Regions from separate parts of the Homo sapiens genome. Here region 1 is linked to region 2. Evidence: fine-mapped expression QTL. A gene starts in region 2. The other region holds a variant in brackets. All regions are shown on one strand. Distances are from middle to middle. Region 1 overlaps DPH5-DT (DPH5 divergent transcript). Region 2 holds the start of DPH5-DT (DPH5 divergent transcript).

The links. PIP is the estimated chance that this variant, and not a neighbour inherited with it, causes the effect.
Region 1: its variant is fine-mapped to the expression of DPH5-DT in fibroblasts (GTEx, PIP above 0.99).

Annotation. Positions count from the first base shown.
Region 1 is chr1:101,067,089-101,083,689 of GRCh38, reverse strand. It overlaps DPH5-DT (DPH5 divergent transcript), which reads right to left. Exons shown (of 5, transcript NR_109849.1): 2 at 7,974-8,295; 3 at 6,182-6,327; 4 at 116-229. Among named protein-coding and RNA genes, the nearest start is that of DPH5-DT, 50 kb to the right of the region's middle. RefSeq lists a silencer at 1,946-2,025. The variant A/G (reference allele first, on the strand shown) is at 8,247.
Region 2 is chr1:101,018,114-101,034,714 of GRCh38, reverse strand. DPH5-DT (DPH5 divergent transcript) reads right to left here and starts at 8,869. Exons shown (of 5, transcript NR_109849.1): 1 at 8,654-8,869. It overlaps DPH5 (diphthamide biosynthesis 5), which reads left to right and starts at 8,931. Exons shown (of 8, transcript NM_015958.3): 1 at 8,931-9,032; 2 at 9,249-9,406; 3 at 12,950-13,074. The coding sequence starts at 9,272. RefSeq lists a silencer at 7,149-7,208 and enhancers at 9,000-9,109, 8,202-9,401.

The DNA of each region.
Region 1 (16,601 bases), 49 kb before region 2:
AAAACTTTTAAATCAGATCTCTCTAGAGCCTGTACTCTAAACCACTATAGTAGACACTATCCAATAATTTAATGGTCTTTTAATTTTAGTTAATATTATATTTAGCTTTACTTACCAAGTAAATGACAACATAAGGCCAAATGCAGGCAGCAGGTATTTTTCAATAATGAATTAGCAGGGGCTCCAAGAATACAACAAGAGAAAGTGATTTTTCACAGTGCTTGAGAGGCTGAAGATGGGATTATCGCAGAGAGAAAAAGGTTAGAGTGGTGTTTCCTTAGTCCACTACTCACAAATTAGATGGTTATGTTACATATTCTTTTAAGACACAAGCCATCCTCCAAACTTACAAAAAACAGAAAGTCTACATCATTTTCCTGTTCAAAACCTTGAAAGCACAGTTTAGAAAGTCCTTCACAATCTGGCTCTAAACTACCCTCCAGCAACTAATCCCCATAGAATCTCAGCTCCAAATACCTCAGACTATTAATTAATTAATTAGCTAATACAATTAAAAGTCTTCCTGAAAAGGCAACCTTAACATAAAGACTTCAGGATAAGAAAGAGTTGTACAGATTAAAGGAATGAAACAGGGTTGGGAGGAAGAGAATTCCATGCAAGAACATGCAGAAACAACATCTCATAGGTAGAAAGAGCGAGGCCACTGACAAAAGTTCATTCAGGGAAGATGGCAGAGATGAAGCTGAAAAGGCAGGCAGGCAGAAGCCAGAAAGAGGACTTTGCAAGGCCCATGCTCCAGTGGGCCTTCCTTTTAGGGAAATGGAAAATCAACAAAAGATTTTAAGAAAGGAGTGGCATGCTCAGATCAGATCTGTGATTAAGAAAGTTTACTCTAGATACCCCTTGGAAATCATATTAACACACATTGTGTACCGCCACTACTACTTCCAGATGTATGCCCTCCACTGACTTTTACAGGTAAATGTGGAAACTGATTACGGGGTTTACCTAAGAAAACTAGTTTTGCACTCTCAGATTTCAAAATACAGTAATGAAAAACACAAAGCCTTTCCTCTTAAAATCTTGGAGTGCATGTTAGGGTATTCTTTAAACTTTGGTAACCATAAGAAGCAAATTACTTTGGAGTACTCCATTTCAAAAATGTTGTATAATACATGAAATGTGATATTACAGCATTACTGATCCACTTTATGATGTTTTAAAAAATGTACTTATTTAAATACAGAAATATGATCAATGAATACAGCATTATATAATCACCAAGAGAACTTACTAGAGTTTTCATAATGGTCTCTTGGCTCTTCTTCTGCTGATATTGGCACCAAAGAAATTAGGTTATAACTATTGTTTCTTTTTGTGGCTGAAGAGACATTTCCAAGTACAGAATGAATGGAGTTCATTCAGAAGCCTTGCAAATGGGCTGTGGCCCCTTTTTTTATGTATAATAGGCCCAGCAAGGATATTTAGGACAAAACCAAGTTTTATTTTTAACCAGTTGGCAAGGTCTTCACATTTTAAAGGAGCTCCACACGCTAGATTTACTTAGGCTTATCTGTTCTTTCATCACAATTTCTATAGAAGAATATTAAGGATGCCAGAGAGTTGCCCACTTAGGGAAGGCAGATAGTTTTTTTAAAATAACAAGATAAATCATATGTTGCTTAAAACCTAAATTACAGAGGACATAGGAATTTCCAGTAGACTAAACTTGTCACAGTGACATGAAACAATAATATTTGAGGAAAAAAAAAAAAGAAAAAAAGAGCTTAGTGGAGAAGCAAGTCACTGGGAAAGGGAAAAAGCTTAAAAGTCACGCATATTTAAAGAAAACTAATGTTTTGTCATTGTTTCAGCCACATCTGAGTACATTAGAATTTAACGTACTTAAAAAAATTTTTAAAGGCAAAACATACAACAGTTGGGAGACAAAGTGGTTGTAACCCACTTCCTCCACACCCTCTTGATACTTAACATTGATACTTTGTGTGGTCTTTGGCTTATGCAGTATCCTGTCTCATTATGACTGGACTATTAAGAATCAAGTAACTGTCCCTGGGCGTGGTGGCGGGTGCCTGCAGTTCCAGCTACTCGGGAGGCTGGGGCTGGAGAATCCCTTGAGCTCAGGGGCTCGAATCTAGTCTGGACAACATAGTGAGACCCCCCGTCTCTAGAAAACAAACAAACAACAACCAAAAACACCCAAACACAAACACACAAAAGAATCCAGAATCAAATAATGGTCATCAACAATACAATATCCAACGGTAGTTCCTTTTTTTTTTTAAACGCACAGAACAACCTTTTGAAGGTGCCAAATTTAAAGATGGTAAAGTAACAGAGAAGTAAACTGTAACCTAATTGCTATGGCTTCAGAATAACCCAGTCAAAAGACTTTCAACATGAAAGGAAAGGAATTTAAATTAGTTGCCCTTGAGTTCAATATTTAAAGGTTCTGTATTTTTTTTCCTACTTTAGCAAGGGAACAAATATAGTCCTAGATTGGTCCAGGGGTGTATCTCCCCTTCTCAAAGTAATTTGCAGGTTGGACTACAAAGGAGATATAGTAACCCAATGAAAACAGTAGAAGCAAGACAGGTTCTTGGCATCTGCTTATGCTGCCGCCTGTATTTCTGCCCATGTTGGCTCAGGCCAAACAGTGCAGCATCCAGTGGACGGCTGAGGGACCTGTGTCCTCCACACTTCGCTCACCAGCAGGGAGTCATTATTACTCCTTCACATTGGGTACTTTTGAAGCACTTGATAGAAGCTCTTCTTAATGGAAATACTGAGGATTAAAGAACAATTCTGAGACTCAATCATTCTGAAGGGAAAAAAACACAATTGTCTAAGTCAGGGGAAACCATCTCTGACAGATGTTCTGCTAAAAGAGAAGACAGCTCCTCTTTTCTACATGATTCTCGAGGGCTAAAGGCTGCAGAGAGATACTGCTAATTAATTCCTCCATGTTTTCATGAAGGAAATATTTATCAAACATATCTAGAGCCATATTTTATAAGTAGTGTTTAGTTACTGTGTGTATATTCTAAGCATTTTATTATATAATAATATATACTGTGGAAGTAATAGTATTTACCTCACTGGGTTGTGGAGAGTATCTAACTCAGTGAGTTGTGAGATAATAAACATAAAGTGCTCATAAGCCATAATCCTGGTGCACTGCAATTGCTCAGTAGATGGTCATTCATGTTATTGGTGTTATGGAAGCTGCTAATGTAAAGCTTTATTTCTGGGTCCAGAAAGAAGTTGCCTTTACTGGAGATATCAAAGGCTAAATAGTAACACTGACGTTTAACAGGATCTGGAAAAAAAGAGAAATTTTTGACTCAAAGGGATTTATAAGGTTTCGAACCACCCTAAAACTTAAGATTTCTGGTATGCTGTGGAATTCCTGAAGTTTGTGAGAGACTTGCACTTTCAGGAATTTAGGCTTTGATGTTGAATTAGGAAATTTGAATCCTGGCTCCATTACTTATTCTTTGTATACTTTAGCTCTCTTATGTGTAAAATGAGGCTAATAATTCTACCTACACGTCAGAGTTTTTGAGAGAACAATATATGTAAATACTTAAAACAGTGCTTGGTACTTAGCTAGACATATCTCAAATCACTACCATCATGATCACCAAATGGCAGAATTGACAAATGGGATTTGTGTCTTGCTGCCTCAGATTATCTTTGATTTTCCATACTCTTTGATGTCTAAAATAATTTTGATTCCTATTATTCTATAGCTAAATATTCTAACATGAGGCAATTACTACCCTTTCTGTTTCTAAATTGGAAGGATATCTTACAACACAATATTGCAAGGAAAATAACCACACATTGGTAGGTTCAAAGAAAAGAAGAGGAGAAACCATTAGGAAATGAAGGCACCTTGTCCATCTTAGGGGATGCTCACTCCTATCCTTCATTTTGCTTCTATCAGCTCTCAGTTTTCCCTCCTTCTCCATTGCGCCTCCAGTCTTAGTCTACATGACATTTAAGCCAAAAGTCATTCATAACATTTGTTTGTTTGTTTGTTTGTTCTTGAGAGACTCCTGGTGGCTTAGTTTGCCCTCTAATAGATTGCTATGGTAACACTTGTTTCCGTTTGTCTACCACTCTCCCTGCATCCTCTTAACTCCAAATTCTGATTTAAAAAAAAAAAAAAAGGAACCACCTGTTTCCTGAGCACAGAATTAGATTATTGAATCAAGCTGGCTTACACAGATCCTTCGAATTTGAGTCTTAAGTGGAGGTGCCTTGGGGTGCTCTGGGTCAAAGAGTTCATGAGTTCTCAATGCTCGAGTCCTCAGAATTGTCCTGGTTTCTAACCTCCTGAAGCTTGCTTGTTCAGTGATACCTTTCTGTGAGCTACTCTAATAATTCTCGTGTTTAAGATGGTCTCTGTTGCATACGCACCTTTCTGCTTTTTGCAACCAAAAAAGAAAAAAAACCTATGTGGCTGTGTGGCTGAGTTCCCTTGGGGGAATTTAATCAGCCATCAGCTTTGGTCAACTAGGGGCTTACACAAGACAAATTAATCTGGAGGAGATGTTAAGGGTGGTAAGTAATTTGATATATCCATAACAGGGGAAAATGGTAGTTATAAGAAAAGAATCAGACTTGTGTCTACATCTACTACAGTCTTAGCAGAATATAACAAACCCCATTTAATTAAATTCCATTTAAGTCAATAGGCATTACAATTAGGCATTCACTAGATAAGCACTTGGGGGATATTTAGACGGATAAGGCTAAAATTTTGCTCTCAAGTAATGGCTAGTCTGGGGGAAGACTACATGTACACATATAAGTATAATACAAGGCAAAATATGCTGACTACTGTGATAAGATCAAATAAAAACACTTTGGGAGGCCGAAGCGGGCGGATCACGAGGTTAGGAGATTGAGACCATCCTGGCTAACACGGTGAAACCCCGTCTCTACTAAAAATACAAAAAATTAGCCAGGCGTGGTGGCGGGCGCCTGTAGTCCCAGCTACTCGGGAGGCTGAGGCAGGAGAATGGCGTGAACCCGGGAGGCGGAGCTTGCAGTGAGCCGAGATGGTGCCACTGCACTCCAGCCTGGGCAACAGAGCGAGACTCTGTCTCAAAAAAATAAATAAATAAATAAATAAATAAATAAATAAATAAATAAAAACATAGAGGAAAGAACAATTAATTTGGGTTATAGCATTAGCCAAACAGGTCAGCCTGCTGAAAGATTCAAATAGCATGTTGCAAGCCACCAATACAAAGGAGAGAAGAAGCCCTTTTAAAGAGCTGTGGCATTTTGAGATCTTGAGTAACATACAAATGGAAAAAGACTCCTCAGGTTTGTAGGCACTTGAGAAATATTGCTTTCTCACTTCTTACCTCATTTAAGTACAGGTCTAAGTAAAGGTCTGTAGAGGCAAAAATCCTTTCTTACCAATAAGTGAGTCCTTCCCTAACCCTAGTCTTGGGCTGGTAGGAAGTATCCCTATTCAGTGTCCCATTTCCTCACCAAGAGTGTTTTCCATTCCTGAGTTAGTTCAACAAGGGTAAAATCTGGATTAATGGCCCCCACGTCTTTGAAGTCAAGAAATGTACATTATTTTTTCCCAGATCTTAAATCTGGTGACTCAGCACAAATTCTAGCCTTGCATGTATCCCTCAACCAGACCGAGTATCCATTGCATGAACAATGACCCACGGACACCAGTGTAACCCCTGCCTCCTCACCTCCTGCACTGGCCCTGCAGAACTGAGATTCTGCCTTTTACGTAGCCTTTTTGCCTGAGAACAAGTTAGCCTAATTCTTGGCAGTCTTCTCTCTGGTTATGGCAGTGGAGTCTCTACCATGTGTTTTAAACCCTAGTTCAACAAGCAATTCTGTTAGAACCCGACTAATATCCTCCTTACAATGGAGCAGGTGTTGGCAAACTTCTTTAAAGAGCCAGATAGTGTATATTCTAGGCTTTGAGGGCCAGAAGGTTTCTGTCACAAGTATTCTGGCATTTTAAGTCCTAAAGCAGCCATAGACCACATTTAAATGAATGGGTGGAGCAGTAGTCTAATAAAACTTCACTTATAAAAAGAGGCAATGATTTGGCCCTTGAGTATAGTTTGAAGACCCCCTGCTTTTCAGCATCACTGTTCATGCATTCAGAATTCCTTATTCCCATGACCCATCTGTTTGCGAGAAAGCTCACCTTAATCTTTCCCAATCCTCCTTTATTTGCAAAGGTGTAGGCTTGCCCATCTCAGTTACAATATTCAAGACGTCCATGTACCTTACTTCAGTTCCTGGTATACTCCAGAGCCCACATGAACATTTATGCATACCCTATCATTCCATCTAGAGCCAAAGTAAAAAAAGAGAAGCGAGAAGTAGTGGTATGTATATAGTTATTAGCAGTTTGAGGGAAAAGAAAACAAAACAAAACCAAACAAAAACAGAAAATAGCCTAAAAGAAGTAACTGTTGCTTCTGGAACAAGAGAAAAGGAGAAAAGTTATAAGACAACAATCTGTTATATTCTGCAGGGAGCAGAGATACCTTGGCCAAAAGTAAAGAAAATTGTTTGGGTAACTCTCTAGACAATGGGAAGAAAACTGAGGCTCATAAAAGTTAAATGAGAGTTCCACATAGGCCTGTTAAGGAATTCCTGCTAATTATATTCATCTTGAAGCAAAGGTAGAAGATGTATCGCAATATCCCAAATTGGAAATCTAAATATATTTTCTGAATAAAGTTGTTAAATAGAGCGATTTTTTAAAATGTAGTAGTAGGTTTAATAGGAATCTGTAAGTGGCACAAAACACAATAATAACTGCTATTTAGTTAAGTGACAGTGTAGTGGACATTTTTTTCTGATTTTACCATCTAACATTCACTCCCCTTTCTTTTGGTAACACTATCAACAATTTTCTTTGGACAACCGTGCTTCCTGTGCCTTCGGTCCCCCTGCTTTGGATTGAGCTGAAACTATCCGATTTCAGGGACAGGCATGTGATCTAGGTTTGGATAATCAAAATATTGAACCCCCCTGGATCTACAGTTGTTTTAGGAACAGAAACATGCAAGTTTGTCTCATCAAAGTGAGGCCAAGACTTCTATAGGTATTTCAGGGAGAGTTGCTCTTTTTTATGTTATATTAGAAAATGGCAAGATGTAAGTTTAGAGTTGCTAAAGGATGACATTAGGAAATAACTCCTTTGACAGTTAAAGCAAGTATTAAGAAAAATAGGCTGTAGAAATGCAGATACCAAGTCCTGAGAATACTGTTTGAACCCTTAATATTTTAGTAATGAGTTAATTTTTTTAGCCAATTTTCTTTTATAATTCCTTTCCTCCTTCCATTATTCTTTCCTTCCATCCCTCCCTTCTTTCCTTCCCTTTTATCCCTGCAACTGAGAGTTGTAAAAGAAAGTAAAATAATACAGCTTATTTTATGTAAGTATATATAGCTTTCCTTTAACTCACAAAACAATCCTATGGGTGGGTATAATTACTCGGTCAACTGAGGAATTGCATAGTATGCCGCTGGTCATGCTATGCATAGTATGCAATTCCTCAGTTGACTTCAAAGTTATGATTCAACCTCAGGCCAGTATGACTCAAAGCAGGTGATCCTCACTATACCTCCTGCCCTCAGGTAAAAAGTCTTCTAAGGGAACTAAGCTTTTAGGTCTCAACAATTCAAATCTGCTTCTAATTTAGGGGCCATCTCTATACTAGGGGCCTAATGTGATGATAATAGATCAACTTTGGCCAGTGATGTGAAAATAAATGTACTTTTGAAAATGCAGTGACTCCTTGACAGGTGCCCTTTAGAATACTGGTGAATGGCTGTTGTAGAAAAGTCATTTCTGAAAGCTATTTTTATGAGGCAAACTGCATTTTCCACTTTTATCCCACACCTAATGTCAGGGATATGTTCTAAGAGAATACTTTTATTCTCATTCATTCTGCAACAAACATTTAGAGATATTTAGAGCTTACCAGGCATTGGAGAAATGTACTGGGCTGCCTAGAACAACAATTTGGACCAACGTTTGCATGTTCCCATCCCAGAAACACTTGTAGGTCCAGGGTGGTTCAATATTTTGATTGTCCAAACCTGGATCATCTACCTATCCCTGGAATCAGGGATGGTTTCAGTTCAATCCGAAGGACAGGAAGGCCATCTTAGATTGATAAGCCATCTTATGTTCCCAGTATCTGTCTGAAATAATTATATCCTGAGAGCTCTCGTAGTGTGAAGCTTTCTTCTAC[A/G]TGTAAAATTTCACAGGGAACCATGTTTTTCAAACAAAGGCATAAGAACCTGAAAGACAGTACAGAATAGTGATTAACAGGGCTGGCACTGGAGTTCAAGTCTCATCTCTTCTCAGCTGCATGACCTTGAGAGAGTTATTTAACGTCTCTGCGCTTCATTTTCCTTGTCTGTAAAAAAGGAATGATAATAATAGTACCGTTATTGTTAGTTGCCCATCCTCCCCTAAGTTTCTCAACTAAATGAACTACTGACTTGCTATCTAGTTTTTAATTTGAATATTAATAGATTATATTCACTTATATTGTGAATAAGTGAACGTTTCACTTATTTCTCTTATCTCTGTCACAATCTTTTACACACACACATGCAAATATGCTACATAAATTAGCTCTAAAAATGAGCAACTTGTAATACATGCCCAGCACTGTAATGTAAGTGAAATGATATTTTATTAGGGAGCAACCAATGATTTTTATCATATAAAATAAACAAGGAAATTTATCAAGATAGTTTTCATCATAAAATATATTTTTAAATATCTTTCTTCCCAAATTTTCTATTAAATTTGACCTAGCCATATGACTTACATAAATTATATTAGCAAAACTGAAGCCAATTATCTGAAATCATTTAAAGTATGGCTATTTCAGAACAATAATATGAGTATCATTTAAACAATGTTATAGTGTGTACACACATATCTGTCTTTCTATGTACCTTAGGGGTGGGAGGACAGACTGAGGCAATAGGAAAATCTCTCAAGTTAGTTTAGAAGTCAGAGAAATTTCCCTTTACCCTTTTCATCAGAATAAATTAGAACAGATCATTGGAATCTGTTTCAAACAAATAACAACTTTCCTAGTGTTTTTGGAATGCAAAGACTAAAATGTCTAAATTGTCACACAGAAAACCATACAACTCAGATTCCTAACACAGTTTTATGAATGAAGAGCTGAATCACTTTGTTATGTACAAAGGACTAGATAAATGCCACAGAAATGCTATAATCCTGGGGATTAATTCTTTTATTACTATTTAACTAAGTTGTCCTAGTGATTTACCAGTTCAAATGTGATATTAAATGCTATATTGTATGTTGCTCCATACTTGATTTTAAATGAATCAAATGCTTAATTACAGTATTTGGAATTTTTTGTTATTTTTAAAGGATTTTTAAAGTTTTTATGTACTTGATAGTAAGCTGAACACTTACGTTAGCTTCAGTTACACGATTGTAAGATTTTTTATTGTACAATTATTCTTTTAGAATTGAAATTTATACCAACTTTTGCATGTCTCCTTCCCTTAAACAATTGTAGGTCCAGGGAAGGAGGGTTCAATATTTTTATTGTCCAAACCTAGATCACATACACACCCCTGAAATCAGAGTACAGACAGCTGATGTTCAGTGTAGACAGCTGTCTAAACAATAAGAACTCTATGTATCAGGACAGGTGCTGTTATTATCCTCCAAATCTACAATACAAGTGTTGATTTATAAAAGATTTGGAGGGATAAGGCTTAAACATTAAAACAACAAGCAAATATCCCAGTAAAACAAAGCTGCAAATTTCAATCTATTCCTTACACAAGAGTCAACTATTCAATGAAAAATTTCAAGAAAAGTATAGGGGTTTTCCACTGCTTTGAAAGTATTTTGATAACACATAATAATATCCAACTTTGGAAATTTATCACAGCTATCTAAGAAGCTCAAGGTACCACTTCAAAGAATTATCAAGAATCACCTAGCATATTTCCAAAACCTGAAAAATCAACTTAGTTTACAAATTGTTAGACTATGAGTTTCTTCAAGACATGGACCACCTTTCTCCTCATGGTTTGCTGCTACCTTGCACAAATTAGGCACTGAGTATATGAAGGAGCATGGCAGACTGAAGTCCTACACCTACCAGAAGAAAGGCCACACACCCTTGTAGTCACATAGCTCCATCCTATTGGCCAAAAATCAATGGCCAGATGATCAAAAGCAGTGGTTCCCAACTGGGGATGATTTTACCCCCCAGGGATATTTGGCAATGTCTAGAGTCATTTTTGGATGTCAGAGATGTGCAGGGATGCTGTCATCTAGTAGGTAGAGGCCAGGGATACTGCCAAACATCCTACAGCACACAGGACAGCCCGCACAACAAAGAATTATCTGGCTGGAAATGTCAGCAGAGCTGAGGTTCAGAAACGCTGATCTAAGAGTTAATTGAATATTTGGCTGGGCACAGTGGCTTACGCCCGTAATCCCAGCACTTTGGTAGGCCAAGGCAGGTGGATCACTTGAGGTTAGCAGTTTGAGACCAGACTGGCCAACATGGTAAAACCCCATCTCTATTAAAAATACAAAAATTAGCTAGGCATGGTGGTACATGCCTGTAGTCCCACCTACTCAGGATGCTGAGGCATGAGAATCACTTGAACACAGGAGGCAGAGGTTGCAGTGAGCCGAGATCATGCCACTGCACTCCAGCCTGGGCGACAGAGTGGGACTCCATCTCAAAAATAAATAAATAAATAAAATAAAATAAAAATAAAATAAAAGTTAATTGAATATTCATGACGGCATCAGACAGTCATCCATAGCGGAACACGCTAAAATATACCTTGTTTAAGTTAAAAAAATTTCATTGCAAGATTCAGTACTCATCTTCCAAAACAGAAAAGCTGCTGGAATGAAAATGTGGAAGTAGAATGAAAAGCCTTCCATTTTCTCTCAACGAACACAATTTTTCATACATCTTCATGTTTATCACCACATGTGATATATTCAGGAACTGTGGAAGAACAGAAGTGATAATGATATGCTGATACATAAGGAGTCTCATGTCACCTAGAAAGTAGACTGACATTTGTTAATGAGACATTTAAAGAGGTCAAATATGGAAGGGCTAGATTTGTATTCAATATCTGGCATAAGAACAGTGAAACAGGAAAGGTAAAGGTAATAATGGTAAAGCAGGTAGTTAACATCTTTTATGTCCTCTCAGTCTGCCAGATACAATGCTACAACACCTTATGTGTATACTCATTTAAATGGTAAGATCTATCAATCTCAGAAGTTAAGTGTTTCAGAAAGAATATGATTTGATCATTTCTATAAAAATTGTACTATAACTTCCATTTTACAAGTCTCACTCCTCCACTAGACTGGGACCTTCTGGAACCTGCCCTCCAGAAGGTCCCAGTCTAGTGGAGTGGGACTCGTAAAACAGACTGAAAAAGTAGAAGTCCTAATGATGTCTTATTTATCATTAGGACTCATTCATCATTAGGACTCGTACTATACCACCAAATAGGCTTTTCATTAGAGATTAAGAGAATAAGAGTAACACTGTGCAACAAAACAAAAATCTAGGGGAAACCATCTAAAGTCCTCCAAATTCTAAGGAGAAGAGAGGTTATCATAAGTCTAGTCTGTGAGTTCTTCCATGAGCAAGATACTTCATTATCTCTGTATTCACAGTTACTAGTGAAGAGTCTAACACAGAGTAGACACTTAATAAGAATATTTTAAATTGAACTTGAGACTGTAAATATTTTCAAGTGTTTCCAAGAAAGGGAAATGTGATCCTCTCCTTTACATGGATCTTGACTCAGCAAATACAGTTACTTCTTTTTCTCATGTGTACTTGTTTACAACTCTTATGTGGTTCCTGCCATTTACTGTTCAGCTCTGATAACAACAATGAATGGCACTCAGACAAGGTCAAAGGGAGGCAACATTTTGCTTGAGCGATTTCTTCATTCAGCTATATATGTCAGTGTGGATGCAGAGTGGGTTACATAAGTAATGACAAATACTCCTTTCTTAATTCTAACACAGAGATCTACAGCTGCCCCATTAGATTGCTGCCTTATCTGGGGAGCTATCCTGTGGTGCTGCAGTGGATACTGTGGAAAAAGGAGGAAGCAAAGAAGTGGAAACAAGACAGATGTGCCAAGGCAGAAACTACACTCTAATTTTGAGTATATTATTTAGATACCACCATCAATCTATCCTCCTGATGTTTTATCAACGAAGACAAGACTTACATCTCTTCCCTTTTTTAGCCACTCAAAAAAGATCTCACTAAACTTCAAACTCAAGCATATTGGCATAATAACAGCAACTATTAAGAATTTGCTTCCTATTTTTTGACTTAGAAAAGATGTTTTCTTCATTATCTCCATGAACTAATATTTATGAAGTACTCTCATGTATTGTACATGCATATCTATCATATACTACTCTGAGAAAGTTAGAGAAGTTCCTGCCCTGTGGGGGTTTTTGTGTGTATTGTAGGGAATGAAGGAGAGTTAAAAAAAAAAAAAGGCCATATTCTCTCCCTCTCAAATGTCTTAATCAAAAATATTATAACCGGGCACAGTGGCAAGCGCCTGTAGTCCCAGCTACTTGGGAGGCTGAGGCTGGAGGATCGTTTGAGCCCAGGAGTTCAAGGCCAGCCTGGGCATCAGAGTGAGACCCTGTCTCTAAAATATTATATATACATCATATAGTCATATATATATATATATATAACTGTAACTTGACAATATCATAGATCTGACCAGACCAAATGATAAATATATACCTCAGAATATGGAGTGGGTGAGTAAACATAAAATATCACTTTCACAGTTCTTTTAACACAAATGATTTATAAATTTATTGATTCTAAGATGACAAAAAAAGTGTCCCTTAGATAAGCTCTGGTCACCTAGGGTCAGTTTCCAACAACAGATTCCTTCTCAGTATACTACCCAATGGTGAGAAGACCCCAAAGTGGACAGCCGGAGAGCTGCAACACATGCAAAACACTTGCAACCCTTCTTGTTTTCTTATTTTTCCTGTTTTCATTGGCAGAATTTTTTCCTTGCTCAAAGCAGAGCTGCAAATGAAAGCAGCTGCCCAAAGTGGAGGAAGTTCAAAGACCAGAGAAGAAAGAGAAAGGAGGTGGGGGTCAAATGAGGAAAACAACGGAAGACAACATGAAGACTATTGGCAACTCTGTCTTGTATGAAAGTCTAAAGCAGAAAACACACTTGTGGACAGATGGACTGATGGCAGCTTTCGGCAAAGCGATGTACCAATAGGCTTTCAAGTGACTTAACAACTGAGTGTTATATTTTTAAACAGACTTGAAAACTTATAACAATCCCAAAGCAAGAAATATTTCTAAATATTTTCCTCTGAACTTTTCTGATGGTCACTTTTTTTGGTTCCTGTCATATATTCATTCATGTTTCTGAATCATGCTACAGATGAAAATCTATTTAAAGTTATTGCATGAGTTTCCTTGGCTTTCACTACTTAAAGATTATCAGGAAAATACAGGTGTAGTTATTTTGGAATCTGGCTTCAATAGGTACATTTAGAAGAATTTGTATATATTTAGCATTTATTTTTTAACTACAAGGTTTAGTGCTTCATTAGATATTAAAATTTAATCTTGAAATTCTTATAAAAGGATTATAGTTAAAATATTCATTGCAATTAATTATTTTATTTTTATGCAGAAATTAAAGAAGTAAAATAAATACAACTTATGGGACATTTCAGAATACATTTTTAAAATGTTTTAAAAATATATAAATACCCTACTGTATTTTAGGATTTTTAGAAATATTTTATGCAAAATTAATTTACTTATATTTTAATGCTAACATATAAATTCTAGAATGTTGCAATTCCAAAACTGAAAAATTCACCGGAGTGCACAGATTCTGGAAGACAACTTGTTTGAATATATTTTTGCAAGTTCAAGTATCTAAACTTTTAGACAAAAACTTTTCTATTGCCCTAGCTTCTTTAAAAAATATATTTACAAGCGAGAATAACTGCAAAATGGGACCTAAAAATGTTTGCTCTATGTAGAAATTTCATAAACGTTAACTGTAGAGCGGTAAACACTTTTTACAGACTGACCGCTAACTCCAGAAGCCTTTTCTTTCAGTCAACACTTTCCCACCGTGAGAACCATTTCTCATTAACAACTAAATTGTTTTCCAATGCTGTGCTATAAGGGGTTTCCTTAGAAACCATTTGGTAAAAGACTGTGGCTTTCTTCCACAGAAATCTCAAGCAGTGAAAAGGCAGATTTTCTGGCATAAATCAAACCCAATTTCTAGGGTTCACTAAACCCTTTCTCCTCAAAATAATGTTTTGTGACTTGATCTTAGCAGTTAATAGAACACGCAGGAGAGCTGGTGTGAACCAGTTTTAAATGAATTTTATTCCATCCCTTTTGTCATTCAATTGAAATCACTTTGAGGGCTTGTTATACCTTGATAAAGGTTTAACTGCACAACTAATGGACAAGATAATACTCTTTACTATGTGGCAAAATGTATAATTTTTTTCCCACCAAATGTGCTCTGTGAATTAATCTTTGTATTATTAGGACAATGTTATCTGTTCTGATTTCAGAGTTGTTCTTGCTTATAAATATACTATTTAAAATAAGTTGTGGCAACACAAGTTTCTGTGCTAAAAACATAAATATTTCATCTGGCTAATATATATATACATCTACCAATAGCATTGTAGAAAATTTCTAGATGCAAGTAGATTCATACGAAATACACAAAAAGAAGCATGTGTACCAACAATTATGTCTCTAGTGTATATGTGACAGAGTACTTTAAATGAAAATCCAAAATTATTACTGGAATGGAATAATACATTTCCACATCTCTGTGCCTTCTGTATACATTGTTCCCTTTACAAGCAATGTGCTCCTGCCTCCTAAATTTTACTCCTGCCTTAGACATTGTTCAATCATCCCCTCATTCACTCATCCATTTATTCATTCCATACATTTTTACTGGGCACTGATTATTTGCTGGATTCTATGCTAGATGCTGGAGTGAACAAGATAATGCCCTTTCCCCATTTTCCCGTGGAGCTAATGGTCAAAAGTGATTCCTTCCCCCTTCTCTGACTTCCTCGGACAAAGATAATCATTTCATTCTTGGTCCTACCATCATTCATCCATTAAACAAGTATCTAATGAGCAACTACTATATAGTAGGCACTTGCCATATCATCTTGCAATTATTTATTTACGAATCTGTTTTGAGGAAAAAGCCTTTCTATATCTTTGTATTTTGAGGACCTAATACAATTCTGGAATATAATAAATGCAAAGTAAATGTTTATTGAATAAATAATTGAAGTAAATGAAACTATTCTAGCTAATAGACTAGATTTTCTCTTATTTGAAAATTATCAATAATATACCATAAGTTTACAAAAATATCAGCTCTGCTTCACTAAAAACTTGCACTGAACATTTTAGAGATGTGAAAGATGGAAAACCTGAGAAATAGTCAAGCTGTTCTAAGACTTTTTGACAACTAGAGCTTCTGCCATATTACCAGGCAAGTCTTTTCCAAGATTGAATTAATATGCTTATAGGATGATCCATCTAAGTTTGAAAAATAATTTAAAGTAGAAATTAGTCTTCATAACCCATTTATGCCTGAGGTTGCAATTTTTTGAATTTTTGCATAAAATTCATATATGTAACCTGCAAAAATTTAAGGAACAAGAATTTGAAGAGAAAAAGTTTTTATTGTGTTTCACATAATGTTATGTGGCAATCAAAAAATGGAACACCGGGCATAAATGGCTTGGTTAAGGCCAGTATTGTGACAATTTGGTTTGAGGGCATTTTAGTTAAGAAATGCAATCCTCACCTACAGAATGGGAGAACATTTTTGCAATCTATCCATCTGACAAACATCTAATATCCAGAGTTTACAAGCATCTTAAACAAATTTACAAGAAAAAACAATCCCGTTAAAAAGTGGGCAAAGGACATGAACAGACACTTCTCAAAAGAAGATATTCATGTGGCCAATGAACATATGAAAAACAGCTTAACATCACTGATCATTAGAGAAATGCAAATCAAAACCACAATGAGATACCATCTCATGCCAGTCAGAATGGCGATTATTAAAACGTCAAGAAACAACAGATGCTGGCGAGCATGTGGAGAAATAGGAATACTTTTACACTGCTGGTGGGAGTGTAAATTAGTTCAACCGTTGTGGAAGACAGTGTGGCAACTCCTCAAAGATCTAGAAGCAGAAATACCATTAGACCCAGCAATCCCATTACTGGGTATACACCTAAAGGAATATAAATCATTCTATTATAAAGATACATGCACACATATGTTTATTGCAGCACCATTCACAATAGCAAAGACATGGAATCAACCCAAATGCCCATCAGTGACTGATAGACTAGATACAGAAAATGTAATATTCCATGTATCCACCATGGAATATTATGCAGCCATAAAAAGGAATGAGATCACCTCCTTTGCAGGACATGGATGGAAGTATAAGCCATTATA
Region 2 (16,601 bases):
ATGACATTAAAGTCCAGGCTTTTAACCACGCTATTCACTGCTTCTGCAATTGGTATGCATGGAGAAAACAATATTTTTGATACCACTAATACTACTACTAATATTTTGATATGATAGGATTTCATCAGGTTTTATTTAATAAACACCAGAAGAGAGGCAATAGCCAGAAGCAAAGATAAGATTAAAATAGAATCTATATGAGTTTGAGTCTGAATCTCAATAAGCCTTTATCAGAAAATGTAATGAGCTCTGATAGTAAGGTGTAAAAATTGCTGAAGAAAAAAAACCAATGCTACTCAAAGTATACAATAGAAAATATTACTGCAAAACAAGCAAAAGACCCTAATAACATAAAGCAAAATGTAAGGAAATAAGATTAGGGTGAATCATATTCTGTGACTACCTAGGATTTAGAAATGCAAACAAAAATCACTCTGAGAAAATTAAATCTGTGAAAATTCTGCAACTTGATATAGATATCGGTTTAATTTTGGTTGAAAAAGTTTCTAGTTATGAAAAACATCACTGTACTTACAGTGAAGTACAGTTATGTGAAGAATAACTCAAGGTCTACAGTTTATTAGTATAAAAAATTTAGTAACTTAACGTTTTTTAAAAAAAATTTATATTGGTTATGCTAATTTCCAGGTTTAAGGAATTACTGTATTGCTTGCAATTTTATATCGAAATCTATTAAAGGAGGAAGGGTAGAAAAGGAGGAGGAGGGGAAAGATACTTCTTATTGGGTTTTGAGTCATGAAACAAAGCAAAGGTCCACAAGTGTAAATAACTTACATTGACTGATTACCGGTCTAGTGTTTTTTCCATTCTAACCAAAAAGGAAGCTACTGAATCCTACAATGTGACTTAGAAATCATCTAACTAAAAGCATTCATGTTACTGATAGCAAAAAATGGTCCAAACCCACATAGTTATTGGCAGCAGAGGCATAATGAGAAGTGGGTGTCCTGACAACAGGTATTCTCTCCAGGCAAAACATATATATATATTTTTTTTTTAAAGTATATTTTAATTATTTTAAAATAACTTTAGCACTTAGTATGTTTCAGGCACTAAGTGCTTTCAATACATTAAAACATATTTCACACATATTTATTAGTGAATCTATTAAGGCCCCTTTAAAGGAAGTATCTTATTCACAAATGGATTTACTCAACTACAAGTATAGATTCCACATTTAAATATTGCTGTGGTGGGAGAAAGAAATATTTTTGTCTTCAAAAATAAATAAATTGACTTTGAAGAGGTTTTAATTAATACTGACTTTAAAAGCACTTTCGTCCAATACAAAAAGTGATATTGATTTTATTCATACTGAATAAAGAAAATAACTGAAAAATTAAATAACTGAAAATTTAAAATAACTGAAAAAAATTACATATGAGGCAATTGACACCACCACAGAGCTGCAAATTAAAACCACAACGATATCTCACTACACACCCACTAAAATTAAAAGGTATCACAATACCAAGTGTTGACAAGGATACAGAGCAACTGTAACTTGCATCTATTGCTGGTGGGAATGTAAATTGTACAAACACTTTGGAAAACTGTTTAGCACAATTTGTTAAAGTGAAAACATATATCCTATAACCCAGCAATTCCAATTCCTAGGTAATATAACCCAACAGAAATGAATACTTAAATGTCTAACAAAAGACAGATACAACAATGTTCATAGCAGATTTATTCATATTGGCCCCAAACTGAAACATCCATCAAAAATAAAGAAGATGAATAGTAGTACATTCATATAACAGAATTCTATTCAGCAAAGAATGAACTACTACTACACAGAACATGGATGAGTAAAGCAGAGCCAAGGAAGCCAGACGCGAAAGGGTACATTTTACATGATTCCGTGTATAAGAATAGCCAAAACTAACTTACAGTCAAATAGTGGTTCGGTTACCTTGGAGAGGTGGGGCGGAGGCGGGGGGGCATTTACTGGGAGAGGATAAAAGGGAACCCTCTGGGATGCCAGAAATGTTCCACATCTTTATCAGAATGATGGGTACATGGTTATACACATACGTAAAAATTGTATACTTAAAATTTGGTGGACTTTGCTTTATGTAATCTATATCCCATTTCTGTGAGATTCATCCAGGTTGTTTCATGTAGCAGTAATTCATTCTTTTTGATTGCTGTATAGCATTGTATTATATGAATGTATCACATAACACAATGATTCTTTTTATTGTTGTTGGGCATCTAAAAAGCTTTTTTAAAAAAAGAATTCAGTTCCCAAATGAACATTTTCTCTGCTCACTAGCAGATTTTGTTTACTAAACTACTAAGAAGCAAAGTCCATTCACTTTTTTTTTTGAGACAGGGTTTCACTCTGTCACCCAGGTTAGAGTGCGGTGATGTGATCATAGCTCATTGCAGCCTCAAATTCCTGGGCTCAAGCAATCCTCCTGCCTCAGCCTCCTGAGCAGCTGGGACTACAGGTGCATGCCACCATGCCCAGCTAACTTTTTTATTTTTATTTTTAGTAGAGACGAAATCTTGGTATGTTGGCCAGGCTGGTCTCAAACTCCTGGGCTCAAGTGATTCTCCCTCCTCAGCCTCTGAAAGTGCTAGGATTATACAGCTGTAAACCACCACATTTGGCTCCATTTCCTTTAAGTTCTACTTTAAGTTTTAACAAATTGCCAGACAACATTTCTTTGGTGCCAACCAAGTCTATAGTGTTGAACTCAATGACAGAATAATTGAAATGAAGAGCTTCTCTCAGAAAGAATACCTCAGAGAATAATATTAAAATAATAATGCTTGCTTAAGATGACTTTTGTCAATCAGTAAACTATTTAGTGGATTGGTCTATAATTACTGAATTATGTAAATGATTCATATAACTTTTGTGAATGGGGAAAAGAATAAGAACCAATCTAGGTGGACTTGACTTTCATATTATAATCTGACAGACACTGTAGATAATTCTAAAATTAATTTCAAACTCTATATCAATATTTGTCAATGTTTTCTGAGTCTTTACTAGTTGTCTGAAAGTATGCTAAACCCTTTATATGTATTTTTTCATTTATCCTCACAATAATCCCATGAAAGATGTTACTATTATCTCTATTTTATAGAATAGGTAACTGAGGTTTAAAAAGGGAATGCAAGGAATACACTACTGAGTGAAAGGCCTAGACTAAACACGGTCTGAATGACATCAAAATGTGAGTTCTCAATCATTATAAAAAATCCCCTCTGTTCAGTTCTTCTCCTCCAGAAATTTATTTATAACTTATTACCATGTGTAGATGTATACTCATTCATTCAATATATATTTACTGAGCATCAAACACTGTTCTAGCTGTTTGTTTCACATTAGAGCATAACACAGACAAAAAAATCCTGCCTTTGTGGTGCTTATACTCTAATAGGATGTGGACAAAAAACATCATAATAAATAAGTAAACTAGACAGTTGTGTTACAAAGTGAGCAATGCTACAGGGGCAAATAAGCGGATAAAGTGATTAGAAATGTTGGTTGTAGTTTACATAAAATAGCCCTCACTGAGGAAGTGAATTCTGAACAATGACTTCAAGGAAGTGGAGCCAGAGCCACACAGCTATCTGTAGGGGCCAGGGGTACGGAGACGAGGAGGTGAGGCTGGAGAACTAGGGGAGTGGTGTAGATAGTGGGGGTATGTGTGTGTGGCTAATATACAGCCTGGTAGTTCGCTTTTATGAATTTTGGCTTTTGAATGAAAGGGAAACCACTCCCCTTCTCCCACCAAATCTTGGCTAGTTTAGCTATGTTTCCCTAAAAAACCTTAAAGGGACACTGTAAGTTTTTGTTTTTGTTTTTGTTTTTTATTTGAGACGGAGTCTCGCTTTGTTGCCCAGGCTGGAGTGCAGTGGCACGATCTTGGCTCACTGCAAGCTCCGCCTCCCAGGTTCAGGCCATTCTCCTGCCTCAGCCTCCCAAGTAGCTGGGACTACAGGTGCCCGCCACCACGCCCGGCTAATTTTTTTGTATTTTTAGTAGAGACGGGGTTTCACCGTGTTAGCCAGGATGGTCTGGATCTCCTGACCTCGTGATCCACCCGCCTCAGCCTCCCAAAGTGCTGGGATTACAGGCGTAAGCCACCGTGCCTGGCCTGTAGTTTTTTTAAATGCAAAAAGAGTGAATTATGTATCCCTGATTCTACCTTTTTAGCAATAGACTTTGGAGGAAGGACCTGCCATATACGAAAATGGGTTAGAAACAAACAGAAAGTTTACACATACATGCACATACACACAGGCACTTAAGGGAACATTCTGGGAGCTCCTTTACACAAAAACGCAGGGCTCTAGGTGACTTCTTTACGACAGTCCATATTGTTACTGATTCAATCTATTAAGCTAGGATGAATGACAATAAAAATTTCCACACTTTACACAGAAAATAGCTCTAGATTTGTTTTTTATGCATTTTTACATCATATGATTAACATATAATGTATGGATGAGTACTTAAAATCACTGGGTTTATAAAAAGTGACTTTTTCTCTAAGTAAACAAGTGTACAATAAAGTAACTTCAAATCTTTTAACCTTAGTAAATACAGGTCCTTATCCTAAAGCAATGTTATCTTTAATTATCACTTATTTGTGAATTGTTAGAAAATAATGACTTCAATCAATTAAGAGTCTGAGCTCTACAAATATTAACCAAGATTTCCTCTAACAAAGGCAATTTCTGGGAACATGTAGGTTAAAAGGCCAGCTTCATAGTAAAATAATATTCTTCATTCACAGTAAGGTCAGATGGAGTTTAGTCAGTCACCCTGATGTCTTCTTTTCAATACACAAACTGCTTAAACAGGACAATTGAAGGATGACTTCTCTTAAATGTAAGGTAATTATAATTTGTCCGTAAGGTAATGCAGTGACTCAACTATGTTATTACTTCAGAATAAAAGTAGCATATGATGTGTCTATGACAATGAAATGGAAAAGCCATCAGTATTAATTTCTTATGACTATCTGCATCTCTCTCACATTTTATGACTACTGACTGTAGGTCTCAAATATAAGGAAGAATTTGCCAGTAAAAATGAGTTACTGGCAAAGGTTATAAAAACATCTTAAAGATCCTTCATAAAAGCATAAATGTTCACCCTCAGGGATGACTTGGCATCATCTGACCTGAAAGCAAGAATACAAAGTAGAAAACTCTTCAGGTCTAATCTATCCATGTTATTCTTGAAGCCAAAAAAGGCTAAAAATCTTTCTTTTTTTCTTTTGTCCTATAATCACCTTTCTCTTTAACCATCACTCTCTCTTCTGCTAGACATGAGACTACAAATTTGCTGACATAAAAGAATTTGTCCTCTAACTGCTTTCATTATCATTATAAAACTATAATATTTGTTAAAAACTAATTTGAAATCGTTTTACAGCAAAATTTTCAAAATCCAGCCTAAATTAGGTGAAGCAATGATATCATTTAATCAGCTATATGCCTAGGTATGTTTTGTTAATCTATTACCTAGGTGAGGAGTTTATGTTTCAAGCAAAATGTAATATGTGTATTGATGGCTGCAACTTCCCTGGAAATGCATCAACAAATAAGATGGGTTGACATCTGGGTAAAAGGATAAATAAGTGATAAAGCAAAAACAGCAAAATGTTAAAACTTTAGAACCTTGGAGGTGGCTATATGGGTGTTGACTGTGACACTGTTTCAACTTTTCTATATGTTTGAAATTTTTCACAATAAATTGTTGGGGAAAATGTAATCACATTTGAAACCTGTTTTAAATGGCAAGGGAAAAATGTCCAAATCCCACAGAATTCTGCAAAATCCAATAGGCAAGATTTTTGCAGCTTATGTTTGTTGAGCTGAGGAGGAAAAACAAAAAAGATTACCATAATCCCTTTATCTGTCTACCTCCAGAAAAGTACAAAAAATTTACACTCTTATTGAGAAATAACGGCAGGTGAAAGGTTTGTTTGTTAAGAATTCTCCGTGGTAAAACTAAGTTCCTCTGGCTACATTTTGAAGCTTAAAAACAAATTATTACTGTTATTTCAGGCAATGTTTCACTTCCTTGATTACCCAGAATAACTTTATTTTCAATATAGATATATTTCCTGAAAGGAGATAAACCACACCTTCTTCAGATTACTTAATCATCCTTTTTGGCAGTGTCCTTGCACTGTGAATCTACCTGAAATTATTATTTTTTTAAATCTGAAAACAAAAAACATAAATGATCAACACATTGGAAAATGTGTTTACCTACTCAATAGCATGCATATGAACTATATGTTTTGTGTGTTGCAAGCCTTTCAATACAAATGACCTTCTAAAGTGGCATGAGACAGGCATATTTATATTTGATATTCCATTAATGATTTTTTTGGTAGTTTTTTAAAACATACCACCCTCTGTATTAATAAAGATGGAAAAATACGTAGCTCAGCTACTAGTGGATAATAATGATTTATTCAACAAACATTTATTTAATACCTATTATGTGCAAGGGATAGTGCTAAACCTAAGATGAGCATACAAATAAGATGCAGTCCCTGAATTAACTAAATCAATAGTTTGGTAAAGAAGAAATACAAATGAACAAATATAAAATCTCATAAATTGGTTAGTAAGTATATGTAGAGTAATACTGTAATGAAGAGGAGAAACCTAAATTAGCTTAGGGGGGTGAGGGTCTCTGGGAAGGCTTCCTGAACTTGGTCTTAAAGAATGGGTATTAGTGATCTAGGCAGGAGAGAATGGGAGACAATATTCTATGATGAGGCAGCAGCGTAGAGGAACAAAGCAGCATGTTGTGGGCAGAGAACTACAAGCAATTCAGTATTGCTGGAGAGAAAGCGAGAAAGCTCATGGTATGGAGTGGAGAGAGATGATGCTAAAAAGGTAGGCAGTGGCCACACCACGAATGATCTTGTGGGGTATGTTAACAAACCTGGACTTTCTCTTGGCCTCAGAAGGATCTAGAAGGGGTGTAATATTTTCAGATTGTTAACTATAACTCTCTGACCCCCTTGAGTGAAGGAGACATTATTATCAGCTACAAGAGTGACAAAATGAGGACCTGAGAATCAAGATGGTGATAGACGGTATGGTTTCTATTGAGATATACAGGCAGACATGACAGACGATGTGGGGGTGACTCCCAAGTGTCTGGCTGGGGTTAATCTGTTGATGACAATACTCTCCTCACCCACCCCCACCCCCGACCCATCCAAGTAGATAATATGGAAAGAAAAGCAAAATGGAAAGGGAAGGTGATGGATTCAACCTTGGATGTGTTGAATATGCTTCCGGGTTATCTAGGTGAAGATTTCCAGCAGAACGTTAACATGAAGCCAAGAGGGAGGAAGTCTGGATAGGAGGCTGAAATTTGAATCTACAAAATATTAGCGATACTAGGAATTCTGAGTGAACAGCCAGTTTTTGTGAGGTTTTGTTTGTTTTACTTAAGCCATTCTAATAGGTGGGTTGTGGTAGCTCATTGTGATTTAAATGTTTATTTTCCTAATGTCTAATGATGTTTAGGATCTTTTTTTGTTTGTTTAAGATCTTTTAAAATAATTATTTGCTATTTGTGTATCTTCTTTGGTGTCTATTCAAATCTTTTGCCCATTTTTAAACAACGAACTGTTTTATTATTGCTTTCTGAGTGCTCCTTATATATTCTCCATACAAGTCCTTCATCAGATACATGCTTTGTAAATATTTTCAGTATGTGGCTTCAAGTCTTTTGAAGAGCATAAATTTTTACTTTGTTGAAGTCCAATTTATCAATTTTTTTCATCACGCTTTTGGTTTAAGAAATATTTGCCTAAATAAGGTCACGAATATTTCCTCCTATGTTTTCTTCTGGTATAGGTTTAGGTTTTCCATTTACATCTACGATCCATTTTGAGTTTTTTGGGGTGTGTATGTGGTGTGAGGAATAGATCAACGTAATGAGAGGGGATAAAACACAGCCACGAAGAGTTTATAGATAGGAAGTGCAAAAAGGTGGATGGAACCTGGGAATGAAAAAAAGCCAAGGTTCAAGGAAGCGGAGTTGGGCATTGTCGGGGAGGCAACAGGAAAATTCTGAGTAACCAACACTGCCTGCTAAGAAAAGCAATGACAGCTGTCTTTTTTAACTTGGATGAGGTCACCTTGGGAAGAGCATTTTCAGTCAAAACAAATCTTCCCTATTTCTAATTACATGTAACCAACAGCTTTATAAGAATTCCCCCGGCAGAAACACTTGAGAGGTCTGAAATCCCTGAGCACTATTAAAGGTCACTTCTTTAGGTACAGGAAGGTCTGGGATTCCTGACACTGAGGGTGACTGAAACATCCTTGGGGCACTCCAGGCATAAGGTCTTGGGGACAAACCCAAGGAGTCATTGCCTTGTTGGGAAATCAGAAGCACACTCACTGCTGGGTTTGCCAATCTCACGCTTCACCAGGAAGACACCTAGTTGAACTACAGGAGGATGAGAAGACTGGAATTAAAATCTGTGCACTCGGCCAAATCCGGGGACAAATCAGGAAAATCCTTCCCAGCCCTCCCTGTTTCTGGAGAGGAGGAGTAGGGCGCAGGGCCCCTCCCGACTCTCTTCCACGTGGCTCCTCTCGAGCGAAGAGCTACTGCACTTACCCAGGCTTAGGAAGCGGGTGTTTAAGCCATGGGTTAGAGGGCTCGTGAGCACGCCCGATCCTTTCCCTGAGGCTATGAAACGGTGGCTCCACGGACTCCTCTCGGCCGACTGACCTTTCGCCGCCCTGCCCCAGCAGCCGGCGGGTTTCTTCAGTGGAGCCGGGCTCTGGTCTCCGCAGCCCAGTAGCCCGCTAGCCCGGCCCCCTCCCGCTAGTCGTAAAGTGCAGTAAAGGCACCAGCATTTTGCGGCACCGTAGGTGAGGCCGGCGGCGTGGGCCTTTTCTCTGCACGGAGCCGGCGCTTTTGCAGTTGCTTCTGCGGAAAGGTGGTAGTTAAGAATTTGTAAAGGCCAGAGAACTACCTACGATTCTCTCAGCGGGTAATTGGCTGCTCCTAGGTTTGTGTAACAAGAGGCAAAACTGGTAGGGTTGTTTAAAACCTCTTATCCCAGTTCTTAAGCGTGACATAAGGTTCCCAAACCCCTCCTTGTGACTTGCCTCTTCTCTTGTGCTACTTTGGTTGTCATCGTGTTCATCACTAGATTTTAGATGTCCTCGGTGTTACTGACGGTTTTTCTGTCCACTTCGTCTTGCAGTCTCTCTTCTCCTCAAGTTTGAAATGCTTTATCTCATCGGGTTGGGCCTGGGAGATGCCAAGGACATCACAGTCAAGGGCCTGGAAGTTGTTAGACGCTGCAGTCGAGTGTATCTGGAAGCCTACACCTCAGTCCTAACTGTAGGGAAGGAAGCCTTGGTAGGTGCTGAGCGTTCCCCAGCCTCCTGGGAAGAAAGCTATCTAACATCTGATTTTCATACACTAAGCTGAACAGAATTTTCAGGTCTGCTTGTTTAAACCCTTTGAAACGCATCCCTTGTTCATTAATGATCTGAGGAGCAGAAGAATGGAAATTTTACACCAACCAAGTGACTTGGAAAATGAAAGGGTGCTTTGTCCTATTTTACAAGTCTAATTTTGTGGCTTTCTCCAGTAAATAGGAAAGCTATTTTATACTCCTGGGGGATAGTTATCAAAACCCCTTATTTCATGAGGTAGTCAAGAAACCCTTTCTGAGTTGAGTGCTAATGAGGAGCTGACACAGCCTTAATGAGTTGGTTATATATATTCAAAAACCAAGCTGAAAGCTTCCCCCTTTGAAGTGTGTCCATAGGGAATGGCGATTGCCTTTTTGTATCCTATCCAGAGAGATCTTATCTTAAATAGACTATCTCCCAATAAGGCTTATACTGATACACTTGTATATATTGAGTGAGCCTGGACTTAATATATAAAAATGTATGAGTATACACTTACATGAGTATACACTAAGTAACCAAAGTATTTGTTAGTATATTATACATTTATAGTTGGCCCTCATAAGGGCCCAGTAAATTTGGGGGAAGGGTCAACTTCAGGTTCATTGTCAAACTCTAAGTAGAATGTAAATCAAAGGATTAATACATATGTTATGGGAGGAGGGAGCAGATTTATTGTCATGTCTTCCAAACAAAAAATAGACTTAAAATTTTTAGGCCTCAGATTACTTTAAAATCTTATAGAAGGAATTAAGAACTGCTACTTGAATTGGCCATGCATTTAAATAAAAGTTGTGTGTAAAGACCAACTTTGATATATACATATATGTGGAGAGAGAGAGAAAATAAGTCTTGCTCTGTTGCCCAGGCTGGGGTGCAATGGTATGATCATGGCTCACTGCAGCCTCAGCCTCCTGGGCTCAAGTATCCTCCCACCTCAACCTCTCGAGTAGCTGAGACTACAGGTGGGTGCCATCATGCCCAGCTAATTTTTTGTATTTTTTGTAGAGACAGGGTTTTGCCACATTGCCCAGGCTGGTCACAAGTTCCTGGACTCTAGTGATCTGCCCACCTCGGCCTCCTAAAGTGCTGGGATTGTATAGGCACAAGCAACCACACCCAGCCTAAGGCCAGCTTTGATTTAAAAAACATTTTTTTTTCTCATTTTTTCACTCTTAGGATAGAACCAAAATATCTAAGCTCGAAATGATGGAAATGTGCGTCTCTAATCAGTGATTAAGGAAAAGTAAAAGGAACTTAACACCTTCAAGAAAAGACAGACAAATAACAAAACAGCAGTTTGATAGAATGAGATATCAGGGGATGGCATAGAGGAAAGTTTGGTTATAGTTTTATCTTTGTTACATGTTAATGTGACCTTGGACAAGTCCTTTAACTTTAGTGTCTTTTTTAAATGGGGTAAAAAACATCTACTTTAGGTGTTCAGCATAATTCTTAGCATAGGTTCTTAACTATGGTATATGGCACAAAACTGTTCAGAAATAGAAATTGTCAATGTTCACATTTCCAAACTTCTCTGAACCTCAGTTTCTTCATTTGTCAAGTGGCAATTACCAGTTGGAGGGTTATGTAGTGTTTTATTGAGATGATGTATATGAAAGTGCTTTGTAAATTTTCAGTGCTAGCTAAATGTTAATTTTGGCTGCTGTTATTTTGTAAAGTATTTTTTTCCAAAGACAAAACTTCTGGAGTTACTACTTACAGAGTCAAGACCTGAAGCTGGACCCAGCCTTACCTACAGTAAATTATGTGTACTTTGTTAAGGTGCTGGAATATCTGTTTCTTCACAGTAATAAGTACTGACATTTATAGAACAGTTACAGAACAGTTACTGTGCACTGTTTTAAATGCTTTACATGTAGATTAGGATTATTATTCTAATTACTGTTCATTTTGCAGGGATAGAGAAGTTAACAAACTTGCCTAAGTTCATGCAGATAGTGAATGATAGAGCCAGGAGATGAACCAAAGCAGTCCTGAGTTGAAGTCTGCCACTCTTTTTATTATTATTATTATTTATTATGTTTTTTTATTTTGAGACGGAGTCTTGCTATGTTGCCTAGGCTGGAATGCAGTGGTGCGATCTCGGCCCCCTGCAACCTCTGCCTCTCGGGTTCAAGCAATTCTTCTGTCACAGCCTTCTGAGTAGCTGGGATTACAGGCGTGTGCCATTGCGCCCGGCTAATTTTTGTATTTTTAGTAGGATGAGATTTCACCATGTTGGCCAGGCTGGTCTCGAACTCCTGACCTCAGGTGATCCACCTGCCTCGGCCTCCAAAGTGCTGTGATTACAGGTGAGAGCCACTGCGCCCGGCCGAGGTCTACCACTCTTGACCTCTACACTGTACTGTGTCTCTGTATTCTTAAGGATAGATAATAGCTACACAAAGTTTAACTTCACAGAACACCTACAGAGAAGGTAGGATTCAAGCAAAATGGTCAATGCTGGATCCTGCCCTGCTTAATAATTTGTTCATGTACTCATTTGTTTGACAGATATTATTGAGTACCAGATACCGTTGCACTACAGCAATCCTTATAAATTTTAATAACTCACTCAAAGTTCTCAGTATGTAAGAAACCGTATTATTTATCTATGCATCCAGTTTTACTCCATTTGAATTACTTATTACTTCTCAGGAAATCAGTTTTAAGATTCATGATCCTTCATTCTGTACTGGCTGACGAGATGAAAAAAAAGAAAAGGATTCATGATCTTGCATAATAGCCCGTAACCACTATCAGATGACTACTAGCTTACTAGCTCACTCTCTACTGGATTTGTTCTCTAGAGTTGAGCTGCAGGGAATTAAATCACAAAGCAGTTTGTTTGCAAACTTCCTACATATTTAGAATTCAGTTACTGCTCCTGCAACTCTGCCTTTTTAGCAGAAACTAAGGAATATAGTTTTAAATTAGTATCTTCTGCATTTATGTAGGAATGTTCACTGGTTCTGTAAACAGCTAATTTTCTATTGTTTCTCATTGGTGCTGCCTTTTTTTTCTAGCTGAGTTGCCATATGTTTAACCATTGAAAATTTAATAAAAGCTAAACCACCATGTTTGTTTAAACTTATTGTTTAATATATTTATTCTGTATTACATCATGTTTCTGAAGTAGGGCTCATGTGTACATATTCCGCATTCATCCTACAGTGTTCTATTTGGCCTTTAGAACCAAATTTAGAAATAAATTTAAAATGCAAAAAGCCTCAGATGTTAAGAGTTCCGCCTCCTTTGGGATATTAAGACAGCCCCAAATACAGAGTTTAATTGCAACATGACATAAAGTACTGGCTTACTGATGAGTTGTATTGAATGATCTGCATTTGGGTGGTTGCCAACATATGCACCAGTCCCAAACAAAGAGTGTGTGTGTGTGTGTGTGTGTGTGTGTGTGTGTGTGTGTGTTAGAATGGTCACCTGCTGTCTCTTTATCTTGATATTGGACTTATATCTGTAGGAAGAGTTTTATGGAAGAAAATTGGTTGTTGCTGATAGAGAAGAAGTGGAACAAGAAGCAGATAATATTTTAAAGGATGCTGATATCAGTGATGTTGCATTCCTTGTGGTTGGTGATCCATTTGGGTAAGTCAAGGCAGATATTTTGAGTTTTTAACTCATTTACTTTTTTTTAATCAGTAAGAATTATTCTATTGCATTTAACACTTTTACCTGCCAGGTCCTGATAAGGAACTCTGGTTACTTAAGCGCTATCTAAAATGTCATAGTTTAAACTTTCATGATCTTTGAGATTAGTGAAGAAAAGCTAGTTGGTAAATATATCATCATATGTATCACTACATTATCAAGTGTCAACTCTAAAGTTTGTATCATTGCTTCTGCTGTTTTAGAAGGTCATGTAGGGCAACAAATGCCTTAACTGCTATATCATTATTAAATAGTTCATTACATTATCAAAAGTCATGCCTGCCATTTTCTGCTGATAATTTCAGGCATCTTCGACTTCTTTTGTCCTAGGTTTTTTTTCCTTTTGTAATCATCTACTATTTGGCAATACTGCCGTCACTTTGCTTGCCTTGAATTTATCATTTATCAAGTCTCTGATTTCAGTTTCTTATATCCATTGGGAACCCTGTTCTTTGTCATTACCACGAAGATGGGCATCTACTGCCTAGTCAAGCATCATCAATCTCTAATGTCAAGCCAAACAGAAGAGTTCTTTGTCTACAGCTGGTTACCTAAGATTTATATCACAGATTTAAGGAACATAAGGACCATGTAAGACCTTGGAGGGGACTAGGAATTTAATTTAAATACAGTGGTAAACTTTTGCAGGATTCAAAGCAGGAAAAAGTCAAAATCTGATTAGCATTAAAAGGTCACTTTAAGTGCTTAGGTAAATGGATTTTAGGGAGGCAAGAACGTTTTTGGTGGAAAAGAGAAAAAGATGGGAACATATTTAGAAGAAGAATGCCAAGATGAATGTGGTGGATAAGGAAAAGGAAAGGAGTAAATCTGATTCCCAGGATTCTAGCTTTACAAATGAGTGGTTGGTAGTGTCACTTGAAAACTGGTAGAGAACAGGATTTGGAGAAACAAGAATTGGTTCTGGAAATATGTTTACTTTGAGATGTCAAGTAGGCAGTTAGCTGCTGCTAGAGCTTGGGATGGGAGGTCATCCTAGATAAATGGCTTTTGAAGTCATCAGTATGTTTATGGTGTTTAAAGCTGGAGGAATGGATAGAATCAGCTTAGGAGAGAAGAGTGGGAAAAGAGGACCTAGGATGGCCCTAGGAAACCTTGGAATTTCATCGTGTACCTGGAGCCAGAGGAGGAGGGAGAAAAAGCAAGAGAGTATGTTGTCACAGAAGCCAGGAAAAGAGACTATTCAAAAAGGAAAGACTGAATACCTTCAATATAATACTGAAAGTTTGACTGTAAGATGAGGACAGAAATATGTGTATGAATTTAAAGACATGATGTTTGGAGTTGATTAGTGGTGGTTTTATGGAGGAGCTGGAACTTGCGCTGGGTCTGGATAGGGTTCAACAGATGGAGATTATAGGGTGGGCCAGGAGAAAGGTAGAAGGAAGAATGCTCATATAAATGAAAAAACTGAGGCACAGAGAAAGTACCTTGATGTAATTAATTGCTCCCATGCTCAAAAACCTTCAGTGACTTCTCATGGCCTTAAATCTTGAAGTCTTTCTTTTTTCTCTAGCTACTCTTTAACCGCTATGCTAAAACCAAATGGTACAACTTTCCATTTCATAAGTGTTTTGTAATATTCTTCCCCTATTTCTTTGCTCAAGCTTTTTCCTTAAAAGAGTTCTTCTCAGTTCCTAATTATACCTAATTGTACTATAAAATTAGTATACAGCTCAGATGCTACCTCTTTCATTCCTGTTTTATTCCGGAGTGCCTTTTTTTTTTCCATTTTAGACTTCTTTAATTTGCCCTTTCTTAGTGATTCATCGTATATAGCCTTGTATTTGAATTCAGATTTAAGGAATATTTACTGTACTGCAGTTATTTTTTATTTACCGGCAGATTATAGTTAGGATATGATAGTTGGAAATGGCATGATGGGGAATGTGTAATTTTAATTGGAATATGAGTGGATTAAATGGAGGAGAAATCAGGTAAGGAATATAGAATGCAGCAAGGCACTGAAATTCTTAGATATGAGCAAAAAATATCCCTTATTTAATTTTAAGACCCCTTCTTATTTAAATAAAATATATAAAAAGAAGATTGTTTAAGATGCTGAATCTTAAATTCTTTTTTTCAGTACTTTTAAAATGGTAAAATGACACATGACAAAATGTGTCATTTTAACCATTTTAGTGTACAGTTCAGTGGCATACTAAGTACATTCACATTGTTGTGCAACTATCAGCACTGTCCATCTCCAGCAATATGAAGTTCTTGAAGACAATTTAAAGTCATAGTTAAGTAAGTTCATGTAGTCTCATCTTTGTTCTTTTACCCAGGTTATTGAAAGGAATATGGAAATAGATCACACAAAGAAAGTAAATGAGTCTAAAAATATATACTAAATCAATAGAACTTAATCACTGTGAGAGTTGACAGTCTCAAACATTCTATCCCTAAATCTCTGCATAAGAAGTCTTTATTAAACACACTGTTTCTAATGATGGTTCTGTTTTATTATTCCATTCTGTATTTCAATATGCTCTGTAACTATATTATTATAATGAATACAAAATTTTTATCCCTATGTTGTATGCCTTTTCCTTAGTGGCATCCATATACAGATAATATGTCCTGATGTAGGCTGACTGCTTCCATTCCATGTAATGAATGTGAACAGTGCTTGATACCTAATAACTATAAAATCAATGGCAGCATTATTATTAGTCTATTTTTCTTCAATATAAATAAAGCTGTCACATGTAAATTTATGTATATGATACCTTCCTGCCTCCCACTTCTTTATCCCCATGTTTTAGGTTGTTTCCTTATGGTAGATCCTCCAAAATAGGTTTTTAGGAATAAAATATCAAAAGGTGTGGACATGGACATTTTGTAGAATAAAGCATATTGTCAATTATTTTTCAAAAGGATAGTGCCAAGTGTTAGTGCTTCCATAGTTCATGAAAACGTCATTTGCGCTATATCATTGCAAACATTACTAAATTTCTGGCCCACCAGCCACACTTATGTCAAAAACGGAGACACTATAAAATTTAAAACAAACATACCAGCCGGCGCAGTGGCTCATGCTTGTAATCCCAGCAACTTTGGGAGGCTGAGGCGGGTGGATTGCCCGAGCCCAGGAGTTTGAAACCAGCCTGGGCAATGTGGCGAAACCCCATCTCTACTAAAAATACAAAAAAGTAGCCAGACGTGGTGGCAGGCACCTGTAATCCCAGCTACTCAGGAGGCTGAGGCAGGAGAATTGATTGAACCCGGGAGGCGGAGGTTGCATGAGCCAAGATCGTGCCACTGCACTCCAGCCTGGGCAATGGAGCAAGACTCTGTCTCAAAAAAAAAAAAAAAAAATCAAATTTTGTATATTCAAATTGGTCACCTTTGTGTACTTTATTTTATTGATTCCATTAATCAAAACATTTTTGGATCTCCTTTCTTGAAATTGCCTTTAGAACAATTTCAAGTAACAAGCATGT